2 separate regions of the Homo sapiens genome follow, and region 1 is linked to region 2. The links come from fine-mapping of genetic effects on plasma protein levels. A gene starts in region 2. The other region holds a variant in brackets. All regions are shown on one strand. Distances are from middle to middle. Region 1 overlaps NCS1 (neuronal calcium sensor 1). Region 2 holds the start of NCS1 (neuronal calcium sensor 1).

What was found. PIP is the chance, under the fine-mapping model, that this variant and not a neighbour inherited with it causes the effect. Protein levels are from antibody-based Olink assays in UK Biobank. Linkage for the fine-mapping came from a reference panel and not from the study's own genotypes, which makes the PIPs less certain.
Region 1: its variant is fine-mapped to the plasma level of the NCS1 protein (UK Biobank, PIP above 0.99).

Annotation. Positions count from the first base shown.
Region 1 is chr9:130,232,044-130,234,941 of GRCh38, reverse strand. NCS1 (neuronal calcium sensor 1) reads right to left here. Exons shown (of 8, transcript NM_014286.4): 8 at 1-1,952. Among named protein-coding and RNA genes, the nearest start is that of MIR12126, 7.9 kb to the left of the region's middle. The variant C/T (reference allele first, on the strand shown) is at 1,453.
Region 2 is chr9:130,170,840-130,173,737 of GRCh38, reverse strand. NCS1 (neuronal calcium sensor 1) reads right to left here and starts at 1,334. Exons shown (of 8, transcript NM_014286.4): 1 at 1,011-1,334. The coding sequence starts at 1,074. RefSeq lists a silencer at 1,268-1,357 and an enhancer at 1,432-2,220.

The DNA.
Region 1 (2,898 bases), 61 kb before region 2:
CCAAAGTGTCCCCTCTAAAACATGGGCTGATGGGCTGTTGACTCTGCAAAGCAGCAGCAAGAATTCTAGACCCAGGCCTGGCCCTGACAGTCTGGGAAGCGGCTTCTCACCTCAAGCCTTCCCTGTGCAAGGACTCCTTCTGGGTCCCAAAGAGCGCTCAAGGGTCTGGGGGGAACCAGGAAATGCTGCGGGAAGGGACAAGGTGTGCCACATGACACATTCATCTGCTGGAACTGACCCCACACACCAGCAGCCACGCAATAGGGGCTGTGCTGTGACTCAGACAGTCCCTCGGGCTGCTGGGGTCAAGCAAACTTAACCACAGCATCACCAGCCACAGGAAACTGAACCCCAGGCCTAGAGTGACATGATGTCGGCATGGAAAAGGGCCTTCAAGACCAACCAGCCCGGGCCTCCTCGCTCTGCAGATGGGGCAACTGAGACCCAGAGAGGGCAGGAGGCTGCCCACAATCAAAGAGCAAGGGCCGGACCTTGGGCTCCTACCTCTGGTCCAGGGTGGCCTCGCATTCCTGGTGATGGTCCTGGGGCCGCACCTGCCTCAGTGGCAGGCACCGCTGGAAGCCTCCGTGAAGACATGTGGGCCGCAGCCCCAGGTGTAGGGACTATATTGATGGGATTGCCTGGAACTCTTCTCTCCTTCCCTCCCTCCCAGCCTTTGAGCCAAGAGAAGGCCAGGGAAGGACACCATGCAGTTTACTGGAAAAAGCAGATAGGAAGGAGGGAAGGCAGAGCGGGAGAGAGTCATGAACTATCTTGAAATCCCCTCCCCAGCCCAAGGAGGCGGGGGTCCCCTTGATTTCTGCTAACTTACTTCAAAGACCACCTCTCCTGACTCTGCCTGGGTACCCAATGCCCCTTCTTCCAGCTCCCAGCCTTAGGCGCCCTGTTTTCCATGCTGCGGCAAACACCAAAGCAAGAGTTGAGAAACCTAAAGATGTCCCCTGTTCATCCTCGGAAAAAATGTTACGGACCCAGGGGAGAACAAGGATGCGGGGACAGAGGCAGCAGGGAAAAGGGGTTTGGCAGGAGGCATTCGGGCTGGAGGGAACAGTGCATTAGCCATTTAGGAATTTCCACCTCTCCCCTCTCCAAAAATCAAGCACAGTATCTGAAAAAAAAAAAATTTTTTTTGGCTTCTTGGCCGCTGCAGGCCACCATCCTCCCAAGTCGGCGTGGGCAGGTGGGTCAGGGCGTGCACATGTAAACGGTGGGCCCGCAGCCCTGGGAGCTGAGGACACACCAGGCAGCAGCAACAGTTAACAACCAATAAATTAAAGATATCAATTATATATGTATATAAAAAAAAACCTCACTTTCCCCACAAAAAGCACAATACTGTTATCACAAAAAAAATCATCATCCTCATAATTAATCATCCTAGCCACGCAGGTGGTTTTGCTGCCAAAAGATGGGACGACAAATAACGTTGAC[C/T]AGGCAGAACCCCTAGACACCCTCGGCCCACCCACAGCCTCTCCGGCTGCCGAAGGACGAGGGACGAGGGCAAGGCAGAGTTCTCTGAGGTCCCCAGGCCTTCACCCCATCTGTCAGTCTGTGTCTTCTAGGACAGAAGGTAGTTGTTTTTTTTTCTTTTAAAACGTCTGTTCAAAATAAAAAACAAAAGCACACGCGCAAGAGAGCGGGAGGAACGGAGGCTGCCTGCGAGGCAGCCAAGTCCTTGGTTTATGCAGAGGGCTGTAGCCTTTTCCATTTCGTGTTGTCGTTTTCCGGACAAGCAGAGGTTGCTGGCAATTGGAGCCGGTGGCTTCAGGCGGGGGATGGGTGCAGGACAGGGGAGAGGAGAGCCGGGGCCTCCCGGGTCAAGGGCAGCCGGCTGTGTGTGGATGCGGAAGAAGGCTGGGTGGACGCACGGGGTTGGTGTCAGGGCTGAGGTGGCCTCATGGCACAGAAGGAGGTGAGTGGTTCCCAGGCATCTGGAAGACACAAGGAGGCAAGATGGGTTAAGATCCAGCCACAGCGGATAGGGGTTAAGGTCTGGCCACGGAGGATAGGCACAGAGAGCTGGCAGGAAGGTCGATAGATGGCAAGCTGGCATTCTATGTCAGAAGTCCTAAAAATGTGCATAACCTCTGAGGCACCCTTTGGGTTTTTTGGTTTTTTTTTGTTTGCTTTTTTTTGAGTTGGAGTCTTGCTCTGTCACCTGGGCTGCAGTGCAGTGGCATAATCTCGGCTCACTGCAACCTCCACCTCTTGGGTTCAAGCGATTCTCCTGCCTCAGCCTCCCAAGTAGCTGGGATTACAGGCGCCCGCCACCATGCCTGGCTAATTTCTTTTTGCATTTTTTAGTAGAGACAGGGTTTCACCATCTTGGCCAGGCTGGTCTCGAACTCCTGACCTCATGATAGACCCGCCTCGGCCTCCCAAAGTGCTGGGATTACAGGCGTGAGCCACCGTGCCCAGCCTATATTTATCCTTAATAAATAAATGTTTACCACTGCACCATCTGTAATAGCAGAAAACAGAAAACAAAAATGGAAGCAGAGAAAACAATCTAAGTGTCCAGTATCAGAGGAGTGGTGGGATACATTAGGACACACCCACAGGATAAAACAGTTTACAAACCATTAAAAACAACACATAGAACAGTCGATAAACACATGAAAAGATGCCCAACATCCCTAGTCATTAGGGAAACACACATCAAAGCCACAGGGAGGGCCAGGAGTGGTGGGTCAAACCTGTAAATCTAGCACTTTGGGAGGCCAAGGCAGGAGGATCGCTTGAGGCCAGGAGTTCAAGACCAGCTTGGCCAACACAGTGAAACCCGGTCTCTACCAAAAATACAAAAATTAGCCGGACGTGGCTGCGCACACCTATAATTCCAGCTGCTTGGGAGGCTCAGACAGGAGAATGACTTGA
Region 2 (2,898 bases):
GTGCAGAGGGCCTGGGCCCACGCAGCTGCCCGGGGATGGGTTCTGAATTCCAACCCAAGCCCAGAACCACTGTCCCCTTCCAAGTCAAACACCCAGGCAGAGGTCCTTCCAGACCCCGATGCTGAAGCCTTCCCTCTGGCAATCCCCTGGGTGGTCTGGACCCATTACCATTAACCCCTGGTATGCCAGGGCACCTCCGGAGAGGCTGCAGGGAAGGGGGAAGCCTGGTATGGAGAAACTAGGACTGCAAGGGGACTGCAGAGTTGTGAAGTTAGGCAAGTGGAGGGAGACACACTGAGGCTGATCTGGAGACGCCCAGAAAGGACAGGCCATCCTCCTCCGGGCAGCCCGCGACAGCTAATGATCACACGCGGCCCAGATGACCCGGGCTGTAGAAACCCACTTCCCGGTGTGGCAGACAGAGATGGGGCCAGGGAGAATCCAGCCTGTAAGTGCTGCAACCCACAGGGTGCCGGGGACCCTTCACCGCCGTCACCGCACGACGAGCGCTGTGCCAAGTCTCGCCACCCCCCCCCCCACACGAACGGGGCCAGGGAGGGGGCGACAGGCCAATCTCGCAGCAGCGGCGGCGGCGGCATCGTGATGCATGAATCACCAGCCCCGCGCGCTCGTGCCAGTCGGCTCCGCGCAGCCGGGCGCCCCCTCCCGGGACCACCGCCCCACCCTGGCAACAGCCCCTGCCCGTTGGGACAGCTCTGCGGAGAGGGGGCCGCCAGGGGGCTGGGGCTGCCCCTCCGGACCTAGGGGTGGCGCCGCGCACGCCGACCGGCGCGCACTCCCCGGGCTGGGGGTGCCAGAACAATGGGGCCGGGCGGGGGGCAGGGGCGCGGCCCGGGAACCTCCGAGGGGTCCACATTGGAGGCCGGGCGGGGAGGACGGAGCGGAGGCGGCAGCGCGGAGCGGGTAGCGCGCGGGTCCGGGGGGCGGGGGCGGGGGCGGTGGGTGTGGGGGTGACCGCGGGGCGCGGGCTGGGGGCTGGGAGCACTCACAGTAGGTCTTCCTGGTCAGCTCCTCCACAACTTCGGGCTTCAACTTGCTGTTGGATTTCCCCATCCTCGGCGGCCGCGGCCCCCGCCCCCCCGGGCCGGACCCGGTTGGGGCGCCCAGCAGGAGCGGCTGGGCCGGGCGGGCCGGGCCGGGGCCGCGCCTTTGTCTGCGGCGCCCGCGCTGCGCTGCGCGGCTGTCGGCGCCGGGGCGCCCGGGGCGTGGGGCGGCCGCTGGGCAGGCCCGGGCGGTCCGGGCGCCGCGGCGCGGGGCTGCCTGGGCTGGGCGCCGGCGCCGGCGCGGTGTGGCCGCGGTCGTCCCTGGTTACTGGGCTCCGCGGCACATGCTCGCTGCTGCCTCCCGCCTGCCGCCGCCCCTGCGCTCCCCGCCTCCCGCCTCCCCCCTCCCGCCCGCACCCGCGCGCCAGGGGTGGACCCGGAGCCGCCACTCAGCGCCCGGCGCCACCTCCCGCCCCGCACCCGCCTGGCCGCGGCCTCCGCCAGCTGGACCCCGGCCTCGCCAGCCAGCCGGAGGGGCGTCCCCTCGGCTCAACGCGGCCCCAGGGCGGGGCAGCCACCCCCGCCACCCCCTCCCCGAATCCAGCCCTGGCGCTCCGGCCCCCGCCGCGGCGGGGAGGGCCCGGAAGATCGGATGTGAATGAGGCCAGGTCCCGGCCCGGAGACATTCATTCATTCGACACGGATTCATGGGGTGCCGGGGACACGGCGGCCCACGGGACAGGAGTGCCCCAGCCCTCGCAGGGCGGGCAGGGGGCTGTGCGGGATGCGGCAGGTAGCGGTGGGAGCACCTACTCTCGGCCTGGGGGCAGGAGACCTCCAAACCCAGGGTCAGGAAGGGAGGTGGATGGAGAAGCGTTCTGGCCCAGGCAACCTGGAGAGGCGGGGAGGCCTGCATGCCCGAGGGAGAGTTCCCCGGCTTGCGGGCTTGCGCACGGCTGCAGGCACAGGGGACCTGGGAGAAGGGCAGGGCCCACGGGGCAGGCCAGGAGAGGCCCCTCGCCGAGGAGCTGGGCCCCTGCCCACCAGCGCCCATGAAAGGACTTCAGCAGAGAGTGATGGGTCAGAGCTGCTGGAGTGACAGGTCAGAGCTGCTCAGAGCTGTTTCTCTGAGCCGAGGCTGGGGTGACAGGCTCCACCTGAATGGACAGAGGCCAGTGGATTCGCGTAGGGGGGTGTGGTTCAGGTGGTAGGTCCAGCATGGCCTTCCCGGTCCACCTCATCCAACATATCATCATATCTTGAGAACTCTCCTATCCTTTTCGGCTTTAGTTTCTCTCCTTCACATCCATCACAAACGTCACCTATGTTTTCTGCATCCTGTTTGTCTCTTCCATGGGAGAACACCCTCCCAGAGGGCAGAGGCATCTCCATAACCCAGAAGGCCGCCTGAGGTGTTACCCAGCAAATCTCTGTGAATGAGCGAAGGACGGAGGAAAGAATGACACCCGGTGCTGGGGCCCTGGGGTAGGGGAGAGAGCGGGGAGGATGAGGCAGCCCTCCCCGGGGCTAGCAGGGATGAGGCAGGAGTGGGGTCTCTTTCTCCCTTCTTTCCACAGTGTTCTAACCTCGGAGGGTCCAGAAAGCTCAGAGGAACCCTGAGCAGGGCCGAGTGCCTTCCAGCTCCCAAATATCTCTCCTGCCTCTAAGCATACTCCATCCACTCCTGCTTTCCCCTGAAGCCCCTGCCCAGGCTGAGCCCCAGGCCCCAGGAAGTCTTCAGATGGGGATGGACTTGCTGGCTTGGGGAGCTCATTCTGCAGAGGAGGTGGGCCCAGTTGGAGGGATCTGGTGTAGACCTGGGAGCAGAATGTCCCAACCTTGAGGACCAACTCAGAGTGGACAGCAGTGAGGGGCCCACAGTGGGGGGCTAACA